Linked DNA regions of Homo sapiens: region 2 is linked to region 1. Evidence: fine-mapped expression QTL. A gene starts in region 1. The other region holds a variant in brackets. All regions are shown on one strand. Distances are between the middles of the regions. Region 1 holds the start of C1orf56 (chromosome 1 open reading frame 56). Region 2 holds the start of LINC02988 (long intergenic non-protein coding RNA 2988).

What was found. PIP is the estimated chance that this variant, and not a neighbour inherited with it, causes the effect.
Region 2: its variant is fine-mapped to the expression of C1orf56 in sun-exposed skin (GTEx, PIP 0.97).

What each region holds. Positions count from the first base shown.
Region 1 is chr1:151,040,462-151,052,420 of GRCh38, forward strand. C1orf56 (chromosome 1 open reading frame 56) reads left to right here and starts at 7,290. Exons shown (of 2, transcript NM_017860.5): 1 at 7,290-8,391; 2 at 9,977-10,959. The coding sequence starts at 7,387. The coding sequence ends at 9,997. It overlaps BNIPL (BCL2 interacting protein like), which reads left to right. Exons shown (of 10, transcript NM_138278.4): 5 at 2,495-2,677; 6 at 2,871-2,973; 7 at 3,135-3,266; 8 at 5,336-5,422; 9 at 5,606-5,704; 10 at 6,190-7,259. The coding sequence ends at 6,226. CDC42SE1 (CDC42 small effector 1) reads right to left here. Exons shown (of 5, transcript NM_020239.4): 5 at 10,524-11,959. RefSeq lists enhancers at 7,618-7,667, 7,948-8,187.
Region 2 is chr1:150,151,521-150,163,572 of GRCh38, forward strand. It overlaps PLEKHO1 (pleckstrin homology domain containing O1), which reads left to right. Exons shown (of 6, transcript NM_016274.6): 3 at 4,546-4,686; 4 at 5,391-5,495; 5 at 5,865-5,966; 6 at 7,299-8,545. The coding sequence ends at 8,003. It overlaps LINC02988 (long intergenic non-protein coding RNA 2988), which reads left to right and starts at 9,208. Exons shown (of 4, transcript NR_135098.1): 1 at 9,208-9,290. RefSeq lists enhancers at 7,336-7,837, 8,968-9,277, 11,626-11,815 and silencers at 8,138-8,187, 9,888-9,957, 10,546-10,615. The variant C/T (reference allele first, on the strand shown) is at 5,729.

The sequences.
Region 1 (11,959 bases):
TGAGCCACTGTACTCGGCTATGCAACTATTTTTTAAAATGAAGCAGTTCTTAGGCTGGGAGCGGTGGCTCACGCCTGTAATCCCAGCACTTTGGGAGGCTGAGGCAGGTGGATCACCTGAGGTCAGGAGTTCAAGACCAGCCTGAGCAACATGGAGAAAGCCCATCTCTACTAAAAATACAAAATTAGCTGGGTATGGTGGCACACACCTGTAATCCCAGCTACTTGGGAGGCTGAGGCAGGAGAATCGCTTGAACCGGTGAGGTGGAGGTTGCGGTGAGCCGAGATTGCGTCACTGCACTCCAGCCTGGGCGACAAGAGCAAAACTCCATCTCAAAAAAAAAAAAAAAAAAGAAGAAGCAGCTCTTTCTATTGCTATGGAAAGATCATGCAGAATGGTGGGTATAATATATTATCATTTGAATAAAAAGCTAAAGAGGCTGGGTGCAGTGGCTCATTCCTGTAATCCCAACACTTTGGGAGGCTGAGGAGGGCAGATCATCTGAGCCCAGGAGTTGGGACCAGCCTGGGCAACAAAGTGAAACCCTATTTCTACAAAAAAAATTTTTTTTAAATTGGCTGGGCTTTGTGGCACAGACCTGTAGTCCCAGCTACTTGGGAGGCTGAGGTGGGAGGATCACCTGAGCCTGGGAAGTAGAGGTTGTAGTGAGCCAAGATCATGCCACTCCACTCCAGCCTGGAAGACAGAGTGAGACCCTGTCTCAAAAAAAAAGGTAGAGAAGAAAGGAAAGCTTGCTCTAGCAGTGGTATAGAGGGTCTATTGGAAAAAAACAGACTAGAGGCAGGGAAAGCAGTAAGGAGGCTAGTACCAAGGCCAGGTGAGAAATACTAAGAACCCAAACCAGGATAGCAGTAGTGGAAAGGATGATGAAAGAATATCATAGAGATAGATGGATCACAATCTGGAGTCCAGTTCATTTCAGGGCTGATAGAGAAGAAAGAGTTTCACATGACATGCAGTTTTCTCACTAGCCAGGCATGCTGATGTGTACCCATAGCCCTAGCTACTTGGGAAGCTGGGGTGGGAGTATCACTTGAGCCCAGGAGGTCAAAGCTGCAGTGAGCAAAGGTCGAGCCACTGTACTCCAGCTTGGATAGCAGAGTGAGTCCCTGTCTCTAAAAGAAAACAACAACAACAACAATAATAATAATATAATTTTCTCATTCAGGCAGCTACATGGATTCAGTCATTCATCAATACAGGAAATATGGCTGGGCACGGTGGCTCATGCCTGTAATCCTAGCACTTTGGGATGCCAAGGCAGGTAGATCACCTGAGGTCAGGAGTTTGAGACAAGCCTGGCCAACATGGCAAAACCTCGTCTCTACTAAAAATACAAAAAATTCGCCACACATGGGGGCGTGCACCTGTAGTACCAGCTACTCGGGAGGCTGAGGCAGGAGAATCACTTGAACCTGGGAGGCGGAGGTTGCAGTGAGCCAAGATCGCACCACTGCACTCCAGCCTGGGCAACAGAGCAAGACTCCATCTCAGAAAAAAAAAGGAAATAGGAAATATGAGGGAGAATAAGAAGAATAATTTATTTATTATTATTATTATTATTTTTGAGACAGAGTCTCACTCTTGTTGCCCAGGCTGTATTATTATTATTTTTTTAGAGACAAAGTCTCACTCTGTCACCCAGGCTAGAGTGCAGTGGTATGATCATAGTTCACTGCAGCCTTGAACTCCTGGGCATGAGTGATCTTCCCACCTTGGCCTCCCAAAGCAGAAAAGAATGATTTTGAGTTCCATTTTTTTGTTGTTGTTGTTATTGTTTTGTAATTTGTAATTTTATTATTTTTTAAATTTTTTGTAAAGATGAGGTCTCACTTTGTTGCCCAGGCTGGTCTCAAACTCCTGGCTTCAAGCAATCTTCCTGCCTTGGCCTCCCAAAGTGCTGGGATTACAGGCACGAGCCATTGAGCACAACCTTGAGTTCCCTTTTGAATCTGGTGATTTGTTGATGACAAGCAGACACGAAGTGAAGATGTACACTCTAGGCATTTAGGGATACGGCTAGAGTCAAAACAGAAGCCTGGGTTAGAGGCTAGGTGTGGTAGCTCATGCCTCTAATCCCAGCATTTTGGGAGGCCAAGGTGGACTGATTGCTTTGAACTCAGGAGTTCAAGACCAGCCTAGGCAACACGGCAAAACCCTGTTTCTACAAAAAATACAAAAATTAGCTGGGCATGGTGGTGCATGCCTGTAGTTCCAGCTACATGGGAGCCTGAAGCTAGAGAATCGCTTGAGCCCAGGAAGTGGAGGTTGCAGTGAGCTGAGATCCCACCACTGCACTCCAGCCTGGGTGACAGAGTGAGACTCTGTCTCAAAAAAAAGGAAAAAAAAAAAGAATCAAGGAAAAAATTGAGTAATGACAGATTAGAGTAACAAACTAGGAATCTGAGGAAGTTACAAAAAACTGAAGGTAGGAAATCTGCCTTGTTGATCCTTCCCCATCCCTCTCTTTTAGATGAACTACCCCGGGCAGAGGGTCTGGGCACCAGTGAGACAGCTGAAAGGCTGGGCCGAGGTTGTATGTGGGATGTGACTGGAGAAGATGGACATCACTGGAGGGTGTTCCGAATGGGACCACGGGAGCAGCGCGTAGACATGACTGTCATTGAGCCCTATAAGAAAGTCCTGTCTCATGGAGGTAATGGCTAGCATAATGCAGGTGTTAAGAGCTATGGCTTCTTAATAAAATGCCTAAGCTGGAGACTCAGTCATTGGATCCAAAATCTATCCTGGAACTTCCAGAGACCCTCAGAGTCCCTCAACTTAAACAGATATACTATCTGTCAATACATATTTGTTGACCAAATGAATTTTCCCCTTACACTCTCCAGGTTACCACGGTGATGGCCTCAATGCTGTCATCCTTTTTGCTTCCTGTTATCTACCCAGAAGCAGCATCCCCAACTACACCTATGTCATGGAACACTTGTTTAGGTGAGGTGGAAGGCCTGAAGGGCTACAGGGCAGTGTTAGGGAGGGAAAAGTAAAAAAGAACTCCTTCAAAGATCAGTAGCTGATGGGAGAGTCTACAGTAATGTTCCTCTCACTCTCTGAAGCCCCTAACACATACCTTCCCTGCAATTTCATCCCCCCAGGTATATGGTGGGAACTCTGGAGCTGCTAGTAGCTGAAAATTACCTGCTTGTTCATTTGAGTGGAGGCACAAGCAGGGCCCAAGTTCCACCTCTAAGCTGGATACGTCAGTGTTACCGTACCCTGGATCGGCGGTGAGACCTGGGATGAGAGGGCTACAACTCTCTATCTCATCTTTTTTTCCCCATCTTTCTATTATTTCTTCTTCCATTTAGTCCTTTTCCTATTTTCTTTGTCCTTTTACGTTCCTTTCCCAGCTCTTTTGTCTTCTGTCTTCTCTTGGAGTCAAGGAAATCTAGCTTCAAATCCTGCTGTTACCACATTACTGTTTACTAGCTGTATGGCTTTGGACAAGTCACTTAACCTCTCTGGGCTTCAGCTTCAGTTTTTTTGTTTTTTTGTTTTTTTTGAGACAGGATCTGGCTGTGTCATCCAGACTGGAGTGCAGTGGCACGATCTCGGCTCACTGCCACCTCTGCCTGCCAGGCTCAAGCGATCCTCCCACCTCAGCCTCCCAAGTAGCTGGGACTACAGGCATGGGCCACCATGCCCAGCTAACTTTTGTATTTTTTGTAGAGATGGAGTTTCACCATTTTGCCCAGGCTGGTCTCAAACTCCTGAGCTCAAGTGATCTGCCTGCCTCCACCTCCCAAAATGCTGAGATTATAGGCATGAGCCACTGCACCCGGCCACTTCAGCTTCTTTATCTGTAAAATGGCAATAGTTATACTTTTGCCACTGGGTATTTGTGAAAATCGAGTAAATTAGTGTGGCATATTGCCTGGCACACAGAAAGCACTCTTCTCTCAGTCTTGCCATTTATTTCCCTTTCCACACCTCCATTATCTTCTTCTCTGCCTTCATCACTGACCTATGTGTCTTCTCTGTCACCAGGCTGCAGTGCAGTGGTAAGATCTTGGCTCGCTGCAGCCTCTCCCTCCCTGGCTCAAGCCATCCTCCCACCTCAGCCTTCCAAGTAGCTGGGAGTACAGGCATGCGCCACCACCATGCCTAGCTAATTTTTGTATTTTTGTTGTTGTTGTTAGAGACAGGGTTTTGCCATGTTTCTCAGGCCAGTCTTGAACTCCTGAGCTCAGGTGATCTGCCTGCTTTGGCCTCCCAAAGTGCTGGGATTACAGGTGTGAGCCACTGTGCCTGGCCCTGTGTCTTCTTTTCCTTCTCAGGTTTTTTTTTTTTCCCCTTTTGGTTCCCCCATCTCCATTTGCTCACATTTCTCTTCTTGCCCCCTTTCCTTTTTTCGTCCTTGCTGGTCTTCTTCCACCTAGAGTTTTATAAGTAATCTTGGTCATGGAGCGATGTAGAAGCATGCAAAAGGAACTTACGCGAGGGTAGAGCACAAGATGGAAATGGAGCAGAAAAAGACCAGGTGGTCGGGCGCGGTGGCTCACGTCTGTAATCCCAGCACTTTGGAAGGCCGAGGTGGGCGGATCACAAGGTCAGGAGTTCAAGACCAGCCTGGCCAACATGGTGACAAGTCATTATCTCTACTAAAAAAATACAAAAATTAGCTGGGCATGGTGGCATGTGCCTATAATCCCAGCTACTCGGGAGGCTGAGGCAGGAGAATCACTTGAACCCGGGAGGTGGAGGGTTGCAGTGAGCCGAGATCGAGCCACTGACTCCAGCCTGGCGACAGAGTGAGATTCCATCTCAAAAAAAAAAAAAAAAAAAAAAAATCCGGGCGCGATGGCTCACACCTGTAATCCCAGCACTTTGGGAGGCCGAGGCGGGCAGATCACGAGGTCAGGAGATCGAGACCATGGTGAAACCCCGTCTCTACTAAAAATACAAAAAATTAGCCGGGCACGGTGGCGGGCGCCTGTAGTCCCAGCTACTCAGGAGGCTGAGGCAGGAGAATGGCATGAACCCGGGAAGCAGAGCTTACAGGGAGCTGAGATAGTGCCACTACACTCCAGCCCAGGCGACAGAGTGAGACTCCGTCTCAAAAAAAAAAAAAAAAAAAAATCTTGAGAGTTTTTTTAAAAATGAGGATCATGGAGGGCTAAATAAGATGGGTGGAGCTGAGATTACAGCTGACGGAATGGGGATTAGACCCAAGTACCAGATAAATCTAGAAACTAGAGAAGTGAATGAAGGAAGTTACAGTACAGAAAACAGTTCCACGTGATCTTCACACATAAAGGTGGAAGAAGAAATAGGATGATCTCATGTTGTTTTTCAGGCTACGGAAAAACCTGCGAGCCCTGGTGGTTGTCCATGCTACATGGTATGTGAAAGCATTTCTGGCACTGCTTCGGCCCTTCATCAGGTACTAGTTCTAGGAACAAGGACTCCTTTCTCCTTCCCCCCATTTTCAAAATCAAGATTAAGATCTTTCTCCACCTTGATTCTTTCTAGCCTTAACCACTCTACTTCTACATTTTTCTTTGCAAGGATTTTTGGGAACCCTTCTCCCAATACAAAACACAGTTGATTTATTCTCTCTTTTCAGTTCCAAATTCACACGAAAAATCCGTTTTCTGGACAGCCTGGGGGAGCTGGCCCAACTCATATCCCTGGATCAAGTCCACATCCCTGAAGCTGTCAGACAGTGAGTTTCACACTTAAGAATAAAGCCTTGGGGTGGGATGTGTAAAGCCAATCTCTACTTTTTTAATGCCTTGGGGGACATACAAAAGAACGAAAAGCTAGAGGGCCCTGTTTTCGGGTGCTTTAATGTATATGGGGAAACTGCACACACCCAGAGAAGAAATGAAGGACACTACTGCATCCAACAAGAATAAATGAAAAAAAAAAAAAACCTATACATATAAGTGCAGAGGCAATAAGGAATAAAGGAATAATCACAGTGCAGAGGAGATTCAGACTGGCCCTAGAAATTAGGAAGAGATGTGTTGGCAGTGAACAGATGATATCCAGTGGGGGAGAGGGTGTTAGGGAGCAAAAGTGCTAAATGATGACTCAACCCAATCATCTAGCTCTTCCAATTCACCTGGCTTCTCTCCCCAAACCAGAAAATAAAACCCAAGTCCTACCCCCTGAACCACTTCTCTCCTCCCCCTCTCCCTCTCCTAGGCTGGACCGGGATCTCCATGGCTCAGGAGGGACATAGCACAGGACTGGATAAAAGGCCTTAGAACCAGTTAGTGATCTGCCTACACCTGAATCCCTGAAACATCTGAACTGTTTTGTAAATCATCTTATCCCCAACCTCAGTACCACCGGATCTTCACTTCTCAGTGGGATTTTGTCCTTTGCATGACCCTACTTTCAGCAGGGCTTTGAGGCTGGGAAACTGATCTGCTGGGTGACTTTCATTCCAGTTGCTGGGACGGAAGGCTGAATGTAGGGTCATTTTGTATGGGATATGCAGAGCTCTGGGTTTTTTTGTTTTTTGTTTTTTGAGACGGAGTCTCGCTCTGTCGCCAGGCTGGAGTGCAGTGGTGCGATCTCGGCTCACTGCAACCTCCGCCTCCCGGTTCAAGCCATTCTTCTGCCTCAGCCTCAGCGAGTAGCTGAGACTACCGGCGCACGCCACCACGCCCAGCTAATTGTTTTGTATTTTTAGTAGAGACGGGGTTTCACCATGTTGGCCAGGATGGTCTCGATCTCTTGACCTCGTGATCTGCCCGCCTCGGCCTCCCAAAGTGCCGAGATTACAGGTGTGAGCCACCGCGCTCGGCCAGAGCTCTGGGTTTTAATCCTACTTTAGCTGTAGAACCTTGGGCAAATAACTTCATCTTTTTGGGTCCTAATTTTCCTCCTGTCTAACTGGAGGGACTGTGATCCTTCCACCTTGGATGGAAGAGGCTTACCTGACAGCCAGCCTGCCTGCTGGGAGCCAGGAGAGTCAGCTCATTAAATCTTGAAGAACCGCTGTATGCCCTTTTTCCTTCTAAGTCATGTCTGCTGCCTGTGAGCCTGGGAAGGAGTGCTTTCAAAACCTGTATTTTTGCCCTCTTTAGTAAATTTAGAACTGTAGAGGCTAATAAACTGCGATGAGACATTTAAGCTCTGCTCCAAAGAAGTGAACGACTCTTTCACCACCCCTTGCATCCCAAACCTTCGGTTCTGGCAGAGTTCTTGCCGCAGAGGTTCCTTAGGAGCACCCCGCGCGGCCCGCGCGAGCGCGCCTGCGCGTCGAACCCCACCCCCTTCCCCGCGGGCCTCGGTTCAAACGACCCGGTGGGTCTACAGCGGAAGGGAGGGAGCGAAGGTAGGAGGCAGGGCTTGCCTCACTGGCCACCCTCCCAACCCCAAGAGCCCAGCCCCATGGTCCCCGCCGCCGGCGCGCTGCTGTGGGTCCTGCTGCTGAATCTGGGTCCCCGGGCGGCGGGGGCCCAAGGCCTGACCCAGACTCCGACCGAAATGCAGCGGGTCAGTTTACGCTTTGGGGGCCCCATGACCCGCAGCTACCGGAGCACCGCCCGGACTGGTCTTCCCCGGAAGACAAGGATAATCCTAGAGGACGAGAATGATGCCATGGCCGACGCCGACCGCCTGGCTGGACCAGCGGCTGCCGAGCTCTTGGCCGCCACGGTGTCCACCGGCTTTAGCCGGTCGTCCGCCATTAACGAGGAGGATGGGTCTTCAGAAGAGGGGGTTGTGATTAATGCCGGAAAGGATAGCACCAGCAGAGAGCTTCCCAGTGCGACTCCCAATACAGCGGGGAGTTCCAGCACGAGGTTTATAGCCAATAGTCAGGAGCCTGAAATCAGGCTGACTTCAAGCCTGCCGCGCTCCCCCGGGAGGTCTACTGAGGACCTGCCAGGCTCGCAGGCCACCCTGAGCCAGTGGTCCACACCTGGGTCTACCCCGAGCCGGTGGCCGTCACCCTCACCCACAGCCATGCCATCTCCTGAGGATCTGCGGCTGGTGCTGATGCCCTGGGGCCCGTGGCACTGCCACTGCAAGTCGGGCACCATGAGCCGGAGCCGGTCTGGGAAGCTGCACGGCCTTTCCGGGCGCCTTCGAGTTGGGGCGCTGAGCCAGCTCCGCACGGAGCACAAGCCTTGCACCTATCAACAATGTCCCTGCAACCGACTTCGGGAAGAGTGCCCCCTGGACACAAGTCTCTGTACTGACACCAACTGTGCCTCTCAGAGCACCACCAGTACCAGGACCACCACTACCCCCTTCCCCACCATCCACCTCAGAAGCAGTCCCAGCCTGCCACCCGCCAGCCCCTGCCCAGCCCTGGCTTTTTGGAAACGGGTCAGGATTGGCCTGGAGGATATTTGGAATAGCCTCTCTTCAGTGTTCACAGAGATGCAACCAGTAAGTGTTTGGTGATGAGCCAGGGTCTTTGTTGACGGATCTGAAAAGTCCTGGTATCTAAAACCCAGTTGCTAAGCCAGCCAGTGTTGCTTACATGAACTGTTACTGACTTACCTGGTTATTGATTCATAACATGCATTGGTTATTCACATTGTTAGCCATTGATTCCACCTATTATTTATTGAGCAACTACTGGTTGGTCATTAGGTAAAATGTCTTACTGCTCATTAGGTGATTATTGACCAAATAGTTAAGATTGGAAATATTTTTTTTTTTCAAGACAAGAGTTTCACTCTTATTGCCGAGGCTGGAGTGCAATGGCGTGATCCTGGCTCACTGCAACCTCTGCCTCCCAGGTTCAAACAATTCTCCTGCCTCAGCCTCTTGAGTAGCTGGGATTACAGGCACCCACCACCATGCCCGGCTAATTTTTTTTTTTTTTTTAGAAGAGACAGCATTTTACCATGTTGGCCAGGCTGGTCTAGAACTCCTGACCTCAAGTGATCCACCCGCCTCGGCCTCCCAAAGTGCTGGGATTATAGGCATGAGCCACCATGCCTGGTCTTGGAAATTCTCTGTTTTTTTCACAGACAAGATCTCGCTATGTTGCCCAGGCTGGTCTTAAACTCCTGGGCTCAAGCAATTCTCCTGCCTCAGCCTTCCAAAGTGCTGGGATTACAGGCATGAGCTACTGTGCCCCTGACCATAAGACTTTTTTTTCGAGACAGGGTCTCTCATCACTCAGGCTGGAGTGTGGTGGCGCAGTCACAACTCACTGCACCCTCCATCTTCTGGGCTCAAGCAATCCTCCCACCTTAGCCTGCTGAATAGCTGGGACTACAGACGTGCACCACCATGCCTGGCTAACAAGATCTCGCTATGTTGCCCAGGCTGGTCTCCAACTCCTGAGCTCAAGGATCTGCCCACCTTGGCCTTCCAGAATTCTGGGATTACAGACATGAGCCACTGTGCCCGGCCCATAAAGTCTTTTTGATGCACAGATAATTAACAGATATGAAGGATCTTAATCAATTAATAGTTTTGACCTAATACAGCTTAACAGCAACAAGTGCCAAAATTTGAGGTCTTACTATGTGCACTTTACCTGAATCGATCCTCACATCCTATGAGGTATTATTATCCCTGCTTTTCAGATGAAGAAACTGAGGTTTACAAAGCTAGTAAGTGGCAGAGCCACGAGATTTAAACCAGGTTTGACACCAGTGCCCACTCTCTTCACCACTACCATTTGGGAGTACTGTCCTTCCAGGACAAGGAAGGATAGTCCTCTGCTTTTCCCAGAATTAGCAAAGGTTCTGATTGACTTGATAAGGTAGTCTCAATTGATACGGATGATAGGACTTTGAGGAGGGAAAGGTAATAAAGCTTACACTTGGTCATTTTGCTTGTTTCTGTTTTTCTCCTTGTGTGTCCAATACCATTATTGCATACAAAAATAAGTAAGGGGTGGGCAGTAGGGTTGAGGGAATATGGGTTTGTGGGAGGGGGAGATGAAGCAAGGAAGGGAAAAGAATATAGATGTGGTTGTAATTTCCCTTTTTCTCTATTTTTTTTTCTTACGCAGATAGACAGAAACCAGAGGTAATGGCCACTTCATCCACATGAGGAGATGTCAGTATCTCAACCTCTCTTGCCCTTTCAATCCTAGCACCCACTAGATATTTTTAGTACAGAAAAACAAAACTGGAAAACACATTGTTTGGTCTTGTGTTTCTTTACAGAGGTACCTGAGGGAGGAGAGACATAAATCCCTTCATCCCTAAGACTGAACTATGTAACTAGCAGCCTCTGGCTTGTTTTCTACTCCCTGTCCCTCAGGATAAAATGTTGATATTGCTCATTTTCCTCATTTCCAACATTGTTTTAAAACAAGTACTTCTTTTACAGGCTTGAAAAATCTCAAATAAACGCTAAGAAAAGGGAGTAGGAAGAACAAGGAGTTGAGCCCTTGAAAGATGACAGTGGTCTTCTTGCCTTCATGCTTGGCCCTCTCTCCTCAAAAGGGCAATGTTGGTACAAAATTCCATCTCAGCCACTTTCGAGGAGTTATCTTCATTAGCTATATCCATCCTTTAATCCAACACACACCTGCAATGATTACTGTGCAACTATTTTGCTTAATTTTTTATTTGAAAAAATGTATTTAAAAGTCCAACAACTTTTTAATATAAATTACGACTCTCAAACCCATTCCCATCACTTTATTAGTGATGGTAGCATACATATTAGAGAAGGTAGCTAAAGGCAAGAGAGCACCAAAGGAAAAAGACTGTCCAAAGAACAGGTATTAGAATGAGGCCGAAGATCACGGTGACCAGAGATTTCTAGGAGTCTCTAACCTTTCCACCCTATCCTGTTAACCCTTTAGATCTCTAGTATAACACTCAGGCTACTGAGGTATTTTAGAGCAACAAGCTGGGTTACTTTCAGAGCAACCAGCTTGACTGGAACTGAGAGTAAATTGGGAATGTATGACCAATCTTAGACCCTGAAAAATGGCAGAAAATACATGGAAATTTGAAAAAAAAAAAAAAAAAAAAAAAAAAAGAACCTCAGTCACTGTTCTGTAGGGATAAGCAAACTGAATGGGTGGTGGAATTGGCAGAATGGATACCAGTTCCTACATTCCTGACCCCACTACCATAAAACAGGATGTTTCCTGTTGCAAAGCTAATGAGACCCCACCCTTCTTGTCTCAGAGCAGGCAGGAGCTCATCTGTCTTGTTCTGCCTTCCTAATTACCCTGGAAGGGCCAGAACGAAGAACACCTGAGAATACTGAAAGTGCCTAAAAACCCCTGCTCCTACGTTGTTTTCCCATTTAAAGCAGACTCTTCAGCCAGGGGGCAGTGGGACCTGGTCTTCAGACAAAACTCCCTGAGTCTAATGTGTGTCTAGGACTAGGGCACAGAAATAGAGCTTAAAATTTGGGGAGGATAAGGAGTGTATCTACTGCTTCTCTCTCCCCTTTCCCCAATCCTACCATACCCTGTTCATATCTCTACACTGCAGGAACCACTTCTCCAGAGGGCAAGAATGGAGGAGGGGGACCTGTCCATCATAGCAACATGCAAACACAAGCAAAACACTGAATAAAGAATTGTTTGGAGATTATGTGCAGCCCTACTGAGCCTCATTTATATGGGCTCCTAGTTGATCCATGGCTCGGGCTTAAGATGAGTAAGATGATGAGGGTAGCGTGCCAAGCAGAAATCACTTCAGAGAAAAATATCTTGACTTTAGAGTTGTGGTTCTCAAATGGAGGCGATTTTGCCCCCTAGGAGAAATCTGGCAATGTATAGAGACATTTTTGGTTGTCATAACTAGAGTGGGCCAGGGTTGCTGCTAAATATCCTGTAATGCACAAAATAGGAAACAGGTTTTCCTTACAAAGAACACTTCAGCCCAAAATGTCAAAGGCATCTCGGTTGTGAAACCTTGTTCTAGAGCCTCTCCCTGCTCCCGTGCTGTGAGGATCTTAAGACTCCTAAACTCACAGATGATTGTTTTCAACCTATTTATCTCACCATCCTCAATGATCAGAAGTC
Region 2 (12,052 bases), 890 kb before region 1:
ATCACAGAAAACACGCACCCCGCCGTCAGGCCCCTGTGACCTCGGGTGTGTGAGTGGCAGTTATTTTCGTTGAAGCCAGTGTCCCTAACCAGTATGCTCTCTGTTCCCCACCCCCACCCCATTTAAAAAAGGCAAGGAACCCATTTTCTACCCACTTCCTGCCCACCCCTCCATTTGTATCAGAAGGGAGAGAAATGGAGTTAAGAACCCCTGTATGTCTTTGGATAGCTTTGGCTGTGTAGTTAACCATGAAAACCACAGTCTACACTGTGTCAAGACCTGAGCTATGATAATTGAATCCAGACCCATCTCCCTTTTTTCCCTAAGTCTTGGGATCAATAACGTGTACTAATGTGGAGAAATCAGAATTGCCCCTACAGTGGTTAGAAGTCATTCCATTCCCTGCCTCTGTGACTGTCCAAAGGCAGTCAGTATAGCCTGGAAGACTGTCCTGTGTACCGGTTAGAGTGGCCCTTCCTCCCGCCCTCACGGGAGGTATTCTGTGTTCCCTCACCCAGGGCTAACTGGGAAGTCCTCCCTGAGTTCTAACCTCTTCTGCTTTCTGCAGTAGACATCCTTATTCAGTAGATTATATTTAGGTAAATAAAACCTTTTATGGTATTGAAACATACACACACACACCCTGAGACAAAGTACTCATCTAAAAGAACATCTACTGAGGCATCTAGGGAAGAACTAAGCTGTGCCACAGCCAAAGAGATCCCTCTTAAGGGTATTGAAACCTAGCTGTTTACACAAAACTAGCAAGTTGGTGATGGAAAGTCTTAGGAGTGAGGTGAGGGCACTTTTCTTGGTCTGTCATCCAGGCAGGAATGCAGTGGCTCAATCACAGCTCACTTCAGCTTCCACCTCCCAGGCTCAAGTGATCCTCCCACCTCATCCTTGGAGTAGCTGGGACTACAGGTGGGTGCCACCATGTCTGGCTAGTTTTTGTATTTTTTGTAGAGACAGTGTTTCGCGTTGTTGACCAGGCTGCTCTCAAAACTCCTGGCCTCAAGTGAACCACCCGCCTCAGCCTCCCAAAGTGCTGGGATTACAGGTGTGAGCCAACCGTGCCTGGCCAGGAGGATTTATTTTTAAGAGTTACCTCTGCCCAATCACAAATCCTCCAGAAAGTTTTCTCCACAATTTTCTGGCTTTCTAAATTAAAAAAAAAAAAAAAAAAAAAAAACAAGTGTCAAAGTGTATCTCCTGTCTTCCCCGAACTTCTTAATTGCAGGAAACTCTAGTTACGAATCAGGGAGAACTTCCTACACATCAAAGAGAAAAACATAATAGTGAAAGGGTAAGAGGAATAAGACATCCATTGCTTGTTTGTATTTGCCCAAAGAGCAGAGTCTGGGGGCAAAAGCGTAGTTGATCCTTGCTTTTAGGTACAGAGACAGAGGAAAGGATGGAATGACCTCAGCCTAGGATATCTGGTGTCCTATGAGTCAGGACCATCTGACTGGTCATGGAGCCAGCTGTCTCCTGCTGGGAAGGGCACAGGAAAGAGGGACTAGGCATATTGATACTGTGCTTTTTTAGAGCCAGTTTCAATGCTACAGTGGGCCTGGTTAAAAAGTGAAATTGACAGAGTACTCTGGGCTTTATTTTGCCCACTTGTGAAAAGCTCCAGGGCCAATAGAATCAAGACACGGTGTTCTGTTTTGTTTTGTTTTTTAGAGACAGGGTCTCACTCTGTCGCCCACGCTGGAGTGCAGTGTCACAATCGTAGCTCACTGCTGCCTTGACCTCCCGGGCTTAAGCAATCCTCCCACCTCAGCCTCCGGAGTAGCTGGGACTACAGGCATGCACCACCACACCCAGCTAATTTTTTTTATTTTTTGTAGACATGGGGTCTCACTATGTTTCCCAGGCTGGTCTCAAATTCCTGGCTTCAAGTGATCCTCCTGCCTCAACCTCCTGAAATTCTGGGATTATAGGCGTGAGCCACAGTCCCTGACCAAGATTTTTTTTTTTAAGGCAGAGTATAATCTATATCATTTACTGTTAATGCAAGAAAATTTCTAACCCTATCTCCCAGAATTTTCACCAGTCTCTTTTGTTATTTCCTCTCTTAAAGGCAGGGTCTCCCACAACCACCTCTGCCGTAGAATTTCTTCTGTGTTCGATAGTAATCATTTTCTTCCTTCTCAAAGGGCATCCTCTCTCAAAGAGGGCTGGAGCACCTTATGATCACAGGCTGATGTGTAAGAACAGAAGCTAGACCTTAGGAAGACCTCATGGTGGAGGAAATTGGATTCGGGGCAACTCTTTGGACAGGCGTGGGAAAAATCCCTTTCTATAGTCAAGGACGAAGAATCAGGGGAAAGGAAGGGTTAATTTGGAAGATGGGTAGTTATAAATGAGACTCTGGGAATTAGATATGTGGGGAAAAAAAAAACAATATGGTGGAGAACAAGGCTGCTTGGCTTTGTCCATCTTCCCAGGCACTGGAATATACTTGTCCTACTGCTTGCCTCACCCCATCTCCCACCCTCTCCACCAAGGGCTAACCTCTATCAGTGTCTCCTGCTCCCCAGAGCTCCTAATCAGTCTGTATGCAAGGTAGAATAACTCCCTTTCCTTCCCTTCCCCTAAGGAAAACATAGTAAGTTAACTCTCTTCCCCTGGCTACATTCACACACCCAACACTTTCCTCTCCACGGTTTCTGGGCTCTGCTGATAGTCTCAGCTCTGGAGAAGGAGGGGGAGAGGAGGGATGATGCATCATCTTGTATCCCTGTCCCGTGTTTCTGGGAATTGCTCTTGGACACCCCTTGCCAGCACCTTGTCCTACTTCCACCCGTAATCATTCAAGGCCTCTGGCCACTTTCCAGCCCAAAGCCAGGGAACCCTGGAAAGTGGGAGGCCCTGGAGGAGCCAAGCCTTGCTGAAACAAATGGAGGTAGATGTATGAGGCGTCACTCACCTGAATGGGGCCATGTTGACATCTGTCCTCATCTGTCATCAGCCTCCAGGTCCAGCAGCAGTTCAGAAGGATGGGCAGATACAAGACTGTAGATGGTCTGGGTAATGGAAGGGAGAACCACTTCCCCACTTCCAGGTTTCCAGGAACCAGGAGGATAGATGAGTTCACCTCCATGCACACGAGTCCTATTTCAGAACTTGGGAAGTTGGGGACTGTTTTGGAAAATAATTTCAGTCAGGGTGGGTAGATGTCATCCAAGGAAGACGTGAGGCTACTTTTATCTGTTTGTTTAGTTTTAATGAGACAAGTGCTGGTGCTTTTAATTCTCATTCCAGGAAAACGTGACCAGGTTTTTCCTGAGGTGTTCCAACCCTGGGCTCAAGCCACGGAGGGTGGACAGACTGCACGGTCTGGACTTGTAACTAAGTCTCCTCTCTGTAACTTTGGTCCTTGCTAGCCAAAACAAATCCATAAGCCACTGCTTCAGAGTCCCAGAGTTGTAGGAACACCACCTTAGGGGAAAAGAGAAAACATTGTGGTCAGTTTCAGATGAACCTGCGAAGAAATGTTCCTAGAGCTGCTTTGCAGTGCTCAGAAAAGGCTAGTTGGGGTTGGAGAATGTCACTAGGAATGCGGCCTCGATGAGACGTTCAGCAGGAGTGCTAAGAGCTAAATGTTGCTTAAAACCTGCTAAAGGTGGAACCAGAGTGCGGGACGGAGACTATAGCAGGGAGGGCTAAGTTTAGATAGGAGGAAGAGCTTCCTGGCAGTAAAGGGGGCCCAGGCACTCAAACTGGAATAATGGCAAGAAGTCACAGAAGTCACTTTTTTCCAAGTCTAAAGTGTAGTCTCCCAGGGAGAGTCTAAGTGCATTCTTGCCTAGAGATAGGGGGTCTGGAGGAGTTAGTTTGGATTGTCACAGTACCTTAGAGGGAGGAGGAAAGGGTAGGAACTGTAATTGTAGTTTTCAGCTTCTCTGGACAAATTCAGCAAACTGAACACGGGGCTGCCGTCCTGTGGTGGCGATGCTCCTGAAATGAACAAGGAAGATGAGTCTCTATAATTGTACATACCAGAGAAGGAAGCGAGGTGGGGTGGGAGAGCTATACTGCACACATGTGAGTGGGGAGGCCAGAGACCGCCCCTCGTTCCCTCCAGACACCCCGATAACTGGCCCTGCCTTGATCTTCTTTCTGTGGACCATCAAGGGCCATACAGGTCTGTCTTACTGAGGGCAATGGATCAACCATCTACCATGTCCCTTTAAGGACGTGAGCCTTTTTAGAACATGTAAGCTGTGTCCTTAAGGAAAAGAGTGGGGCGGTTGGTGAAGAGAGGCATAGTGGGACTCTGGAAATGGCAGCCTGGCTAAGGAGAGTGAAGAGAAGGGGTTTAAACAGAAACACACCTTAACATTCAAGACTTGGAGCTGCCCTAGCGTCCTCCTCGATGTGAGGACCTTGTAGGCTTTGGGCAGACGGCCCTCTCCTCTCCTGGCGTGCCTCCCTCTCCTCAGGCTTCCTCTGTTTCCCAAGATGATCTAAACTAACAGTCTGGGTGGAGGGGCTAAATAATTTTATCCTCCTCACCTCACCCCAACCCTCCCCTAGGTAAAAGATGAGAAAAATATTCAAGAGGTATTTGACCTGAGTGACTATGAGAAGTGTGAAGAGCTCCGGAAGTCCAAGAGCAGGAGCAAGAAAAATCATAGCAAGTTTACTCTTGCCCACTCCAAACAGCCCGGTAACACGGTATGTTTCTCCTGCCACCTTGGCTGCTGGAACATGGACAGGGTTGGAGGGGGCAGGGGAGAACTCCTTCCCCTCAGTTTCTCTCTCAGCAATCTTGGTTCAGATTCCCTGAATTGCTCTCCTGCTGGCTTTTATCATTTCACCTGAGAATATTGTAGCCATTTCCTTCTTTCCAGGCAGGCCACCCTTTAACCTGTTCAGCCACAAAGATCATCTCTCTATATATCTCTTTATTTTTCTCTGTCTTATACACACACATCCACACATGTGCATATTTACATCCCTTAGAAGAAAATCCCTGTCCTTGTACCCTGATAGGTGGTTGAAGTTCTGAATCTAATTCATCTTGTCTGAGGGAACCCAGGGAAGTTATTCCTGTCACATTCTATTTCTTCAAACATTGAAAGATTTGTATTTTAATACCTATCCTTCATCAGACTTCCTCTAATTATCTCTAATACCATACTAATATTCAGTATCCTTCTTAGCTCCTCCTTGGTCATTTCTAAAACAACCTCCTAGCTATGCATTTTGCAGGAATAGAAGCTGGGTTTCCTTAAGTTATGGATGACTCTGGAAGCAGAATATCTCTCCTTCCTGGAGCTAGGTCTAAGAAAGTGAGATTATAATCTCTTATTTCTTCATTGTCAAGGTGAGGCACCACCTCTAAAACCCTGGCTGAAACAGGAATCTTCCCCTCACAGGCACCCAACCTGATCTTCCTGGCAGTGAGTCCAGAAGAGAAGGAATCGTGGATCAATGCCCTCAACTCTGCCATCACCCGAGCCAAGAACCGTATCTTGGATGAGGTCAGGGGGCTCACTGTGGGGAGAGGGAGGAACGCTGGGGCAGAGGGAACAGCTGTGACCCACTGAAGGGGGAGGATTGTGCAGGCCCCGTTTACTCGCTCCTCCACCAGCTCTACTTCTTTACCACCCTTTTAAAAGCCCTGATCTCTTTCTACCTTCTCTCCAAGTCTCATCTGACACCTCCTCTTCCCCGCTTCATGATGGGGGAGCCAGCCTTGGGTCAGCTTAAAGAG[C/T]CCCCTTCGTGTCCAGTAAATCCCCTTGCCCATTCAGAAGCAGTGAATGGAGTGGGCACATGTTCAGGCCTCGGGATGCTGGGTTGGGACAGCGAGTCGCTGAAGAGCACTCATGATTCACAGTACATCTCTTCAGGTCACCGTTGAGGAGGACAGCTATCTTGCCCATCCCACTCGAGACAGGGCAAAAATCCAGCACTCCCGCCGCCCCCCAACAAGGGGACACCTAATGGCTGTGGTATGTAAGACTGTAATAAACATTGCCAAAGGGCCAATTCTGTGTCAGTCCATCTCAGACAGAACTGTATGCCACCAGAGGCATTTGCGGGAGGCCTCCTTGATGCCAAGATCAAAGGCGAGGGAAGTCCTTCCACCCAATGCCTCTGCCAGATCTAAATCAAAAGGTTTTATTCAGCGCCCATTAGGAGTTCAAAAGTCCCAGCTCCCAGTAATGTTACCCTCTTTCGGAGAAAATGAGTTATACCCACAGGAAAATGAAAAATTAGCTACTGTATGGTGGCTGTCTTGATGGGTAACAACATGTAGTACCGCGGGTGTTTGGAGGAGAAAGGATCACAATGAACTCCTGAAACATACAACGTGCTAGTTTCTTTCATGCCTCTGAGCTCTTAAGTCTTCAGAGAGAGAGGCAGGCAGGTATAATGCAGAGAACACAGGCTTTGGAGTTAGAACCTGAGTTGGAACCTCACTGTAATCAGCTACCTGTGTGGTTCCCTGAAGTTGCATGTCTCCAACTGTAAAATGAGGCAGTAATCATGCCTGCCTTGAAGGGCTGCTGTGAGGAATGACTAAAACAACATATTTGGTATTGAATACTCATCATTTTTAGTATTCTGGAAATAAGAGAACAAATTTTATTATAAGGCAAGGGGGCTGAAGTGTGGGACTCAGAGGATGCAGATGGAGGAGGACAGTCGTGCCATGGGGAGCATCCTGTGTGCATCAGATGCAGTTTAATTGCTGAGAGTCCACAATACCAAGGAAGAGGGCGCCCCTCAGGAAGCTTATGGTAGAGTGGAGAATACAGGAAACAAGTAACAAACTAAATCACAGAAGAAGAAACATTCAAGTCACTATCAAAGGAATAAGAAACAGCACATTCAGTAGGAGGGTTCAGTCAAGAGCAGAGGGCTTTGCCAGGCAGGGGGGCTCACACCTGTAATCCCAGTACTTTGGGAGGCTGAGACGGTGTATCACTTGAGGTCAGGAGTTTGAGACCAGCCATGGCCAACATGGTGAAACCCTGCCTCTGCTAAAAATACAAAAAAAAAGAGCTGGGCGTGGTGGTGCACGCATGTAATCCCAGCTACTCGGGAGGCTGAGGCAGGAGAATGGCGTGAACCCGGGAGGCGGAGCTTGCAGTGAGCTCAAATCGTGCCACTGCACTCCAGCCTGGGTGACAGAGCAAGACTCTGTCTCTAAAAAAAAGTACTTCTCATTCAAGGAAGGCTTGTAGAGGAAAATGACCACAGCTTGCATCTTTTAGGCAGTCATTCCGAAAATCCCTCCTGATGACAGGTTCCCCACTCATTCCCCCCTTCCTCCACAGGCTTCCACCTCTACCTCGGATGGGATGCTGACCTTGGACTTGATCCAAGAGGAAGACCCTTCCCCTGAGGAACCAACCTCTTGTGCTGAGAGCTTTCGGGTTGACCTGGACAAGTCTGTGGCCCAGCTGGCAGGGAGCCGGCGGAGAGCGGACTCAGACCGCATCCAGCCCTCCGCAGACCGGGCAAGCAGTCTCTCCCGACCTTGGGAAAAAACAGACAAAGGGGCCACCTACACCCCCCAGGCACCCAAGAAGTTGACGCCCACAGAGAAAGGCCGCTGCGCCTCCCTGGAGGAGATCCTATCTCAGCGGGATGCTGCCTCTGCCCGCACCCTCCAGCTGCGGGCTGAGGAACCCCCAACCCCTGCCCTCCCCAACCCGGGGCAGCTGTCCCGGATCCAGGACCTGGTAGCAAGGAAACTGGAGGAGACTCAGGAGCTTCTGGCAGAGGTTCAGGGACTGGGAGATGGGAAGCGAAAGGCCAAGGACCCCCCTCGGTCTCCGCCGGATTCTGAGTCAGAGCAGCTGCTGCTGGAGACGGAACGGCTGCTGGGAGAGGCATCATCGAATTGGAGCCAGGCAAAGAGGGTGCTGCAGGAGGTCAGGGAGCTGAGAGACCTGTACAGACAGATGGACCTGCAGACCCCGGACTCCCACCTCAGACAGACCACCCCGCACAGTCAGTACCGGAAGAGCCTGATGTGAGGGCAGGGTGGGGTCTGGAACTTGTCGGGTTGGACAGACTCTTATCTCCGTGTTGCTGGATAAAGCTTTTTTATTTACCTCAATCAAAAAAAGAAAACAAAAATGAACTCATTGCTCTTGCTGATGCCTGACCCCACTACAACCCTTATTGCCCCACCTACTTTCCATATGCCCCTCGTATGCCCCTCAGGTTTGAGGAAGTGACCCCGCAGCAGTAGCAGGAAGTTTTTACCCAGCCAGAGAGAGAGAAGGCACGGTAAAGACACAGTCTGACCACTCCACACACCGCCCGCCCCCAAGACGGCACAGGGAGTCCACTGCTGCTCCCAAGGATACAGTGGGCTTCTAAGCTTAGAGCGGGAGGGGGATGAGGATGTTTTCTGTTATGTCCCACCCCAGGCCTTCAGTTTGAGGGTGAAGTTTCAGCTGCCCAACTCTAGTTGTAGGGATGTGGAGGCCAGTGTCACCTGTCCGTGCACATGGAAGTGAAATTTATCCCAGCCCTGAGGAGGATTTGTGGAATTAAAATCTCCCCAGCCAGACACTGGCTTCTCATTCCTAGCAGTCTCTCATTGAGATCGAGCTGCCTGGATTTTCTTACATGAGGTGTTTCTTCCCTTCATCTTCCACACCCTTCCCAACCTTGACTCAAAGATCCACCCTTGTCGGGCGCAGTGGCTCACGCCTGTAATCCCAGCACTTTGGGAGGCCAAGGCGGGTGGATCACCTGAGGTCAGAAGTTTGAGACCAGCCTGACCGACATGATGAAACCCAGTCTCTACCGAAAATACAAAAAATTAGCCAGGCATGGTGGTGGGCGCCTGTAATCCCAGCTATGCGGGAGGCTGAGGCAGGAGAATCACTTGAACCTGGGAGGCAGAGGTTGCAGCAAGCCAAGATTGTGCCATTGCACTCCAGCCTGGGCAACAAGAGCGAAACTCCGTCTCAAAAAAAAAAAAAAAATCCAACCTTGAGTGGATGAGACTAGTTTCATTATTTGATTCAGGGCCCTAGCACAGGGGAACTAGAGACAGACCCCACAGAAGAACTGAACTAAGAATGAAACTGGTGTGTGATGCAAGCTGGGTAGGATGAAGGGGAAAACCAAACATCTGTCCAAGTTCCTCTTTCAGCCATGCTGAGGTTTCCTGTAGCCTCCCCCTCTCCTTCCTCAAACCTCTTCCATCACTAAGCAAGTCCCCACTTTAGAAAAGCATCTGGATGCCCACGCCACCACCCTCCCAGCCACCTCTGAAGTTGCCAGGCTTCCCAACATTCTTGTCTGTGGTAGGTCCCACACAACTCACTGTTCACTCTTTCCTTGGAAGTGTGTGAGATGAGGTTTAGTAACGGTGAGGTCCCCAGAAGAGCTATGAAGGGAATAATTTGATTTTGGGAAAGAAGGGGACAGAGTCTCATGAATCAAGTAAATGAGGGGTTAAAAGCCACATTGAAGTGTGCCTTGCTAGCTGCTTGATCCTCCAAGAGCAGCGGGGCTTCACTAGAGGTAAGGGGAGGAGGGGGAGGAAACGGGGCCAAGTTACATGTAGACCTGGCCATGACGCTGCCCCGATGTTATAGGAAGATGGGATAGGAGGAAGCGGGGGAAAAACCTGTGGGAGAAACAGATTCTTCAGTCCGCATTCTTCTGCTCTAACGTCACTCCTACAACCCATGTAAGCAAAATGGGGGCCTCTGTCCCCTTTCCAGAAATCATCTCTTTCCTTCACAGCTCTTCTCTGGACCTTATCACTGCTGTTAAACCATCCCTAGGGCAGAGGAATTCTTGCTCTCTCTAGTCCCTTGCCACTCTGTCATGGAGATTGTCCCCAGCTCTAGACTGTAGTTACCTAGCCTCTTCCTTGAAGAATGTGTATCCCAGTTGAGTGAGGGAAAGTGTGCAAGAGTGCCACCTTCATGTCATTCTATGGTCTCTTGGGGTATGAGGTGAGAACCCAGGCTTCCAGACTTCCTGTCCTTCAAATAGCTGCACTCTCCACAGCCCTAAGCATGGTCAGCAGAGCCATCCATTGTCACAAGTATTGAAGTCTAAGGTAGAATTATGCTTTCTTTTTACAAGTCTCTATCTTTGTATTTTACCAGCATTTTTCCTTTTCTTTTTTTCTTCCTTGTTGCTCCCACATAATGAAAAAAGACAAAAGCACAAATGACATGTGTATCCCAACATGTCAATTATCTGTGGCTCCCAGGGGAGCCAGAAGATGGAGGGAGACACTAGAGAGGAGAATGACAGGTGAAAGAAGCAGAAAAGAAAGATCGGGGACCTCACAACAGTAAGAGAGGAGCTGGGCACTGTGCTCCTGGGCTTCAGGCTCTAAAACCAACAGCTTCCAGTTCTCCAGCAGTTACTGGAACATCCAGGCCCTAGGGTGGTGAAATGAGCCCAGCTTTGAAACCAGATGGATCTGGATTCAAATTCTAACTCTGTTACTTCTTGATTATGAGGCTCTGGGCAAGGCACATGCTTTCCGAGTATCAGTTTTTTTCATCTGCAAGCTGCAGAGCTATTGGATGGGTGAGGACAATATGGAAAATGCCTGTCAGTCAGAAAGTGACCACTGCAGCTACTGTTACTGGTTTGACTCTGGGCAGTGAGCCGCTAGCTCAGTTGGAAGGAGCACTGTGTGAATGAGGCCACCGGGGTGGGGTCACTGTCACTTAGCTAGATCCAGGCCACAGGCTGTGCTGGACCTCTCTCTTCAGAGGAGAGAGCCAGAAGGGATGAAAGCATGGTCCCTGGTCTTCAAGAACTTTAGAGCTTAGCATGGAACCAGGCTTCCCACTAGAAAAATCGCTTAAGGTGCACCCTTGTGGTAGGCTGCTGGCATGAGTTCTGTTGAAGCATTTGTATTGAACCTGGGCACTGTGACAGGAGGATGGGAAGGTGCTTACGTTCATTTCCCTTCCTCCCAGTGCTTCTCCTCCCTCACTTCATCATTTTAGCCCCTCTGCCTGCAATATTTCCCTTCCGTGCCCCCGGTAACTGTGATGCGTGGCAAATGGGCTGGCTCAGTAGCTGTGTGGGGCAACTTTCTCAGCACACAGCTGCCCCCAGACACTTTCAGGGTGCACTTATTCTCCCTCCCTTTCCACTCCCAACCGCTCTGCTCCCTTCTTTTCTTACACAGATGAAGCAAAGGGAAGTGCCCTCCGGAGGCCCTAGGATGGGGAGACGGGGTAAGGGGTGGAACCCAGGACACAGAGTTGAGAGGGGGTGAGGGGTAGAGGCAGGTAAAGAACGAAATCTTAATTCTCATTTCAGTGACACTTTCCTCAACTTTTCCTGTCCTTCCCCATCAGGTTGTTAGCCAGGGGCCTGAGGAGGGATAAAGGAACTGCAGTCCCGGCTCCCTCCATTAGGAAGAATGTCTGGGGTGTTGGCCTGGAACGCTGATGAGTTGATTTCCTTCTATCTCCACAGCATAGGTTTACCAGGGAGAAAAGAAAGGTGCAAATTTCTCTAACTCCTGCCCTGGTCCTCACATACTATGCGGTTCTGAGCCTAGAGCTCTGTCCCTGGGGAAACAGCTCTCGCCTCCTTCCCCAGCCGCTCTCCCAACCCCTCTGCCAGTAATAAATTTGCCTCATTCTCCCAGGAAATGAGTCTCTAAGAATCTCTCTTCTATCTAAACCTCACAGGCAAGCAGTCCCAGCCCACTTCTGCAACCCTCAAGCTCAGCTACTGCCCCCACCCCCCACTTCGTCACTCCCTTCTCTACGCTGGGTTCCTTTCTCTTTCTGCTTTCTTACTACCTCCCTGTCTCCCAACAGGAGCAGCCAATCCCCAGCCTGCTCTAGAGCCACGCCATATATGGAGAGGTTGGAAAGAAACCCGAGTAAATGCAGGAGCGAACACACACACACACTCATACTCATGCACATACTCATGCACACACAGCAGAGTTTGACCGCCTTTCTGCATGTGACCCTGTGTCTATTTGTCTCTGTGTGACACAAGTCCCACCCACAGAATGAGGAGGCTGTTTGCTATTCCCCACCTTTAGTCGTGCCCCAGGAGACCATCACTC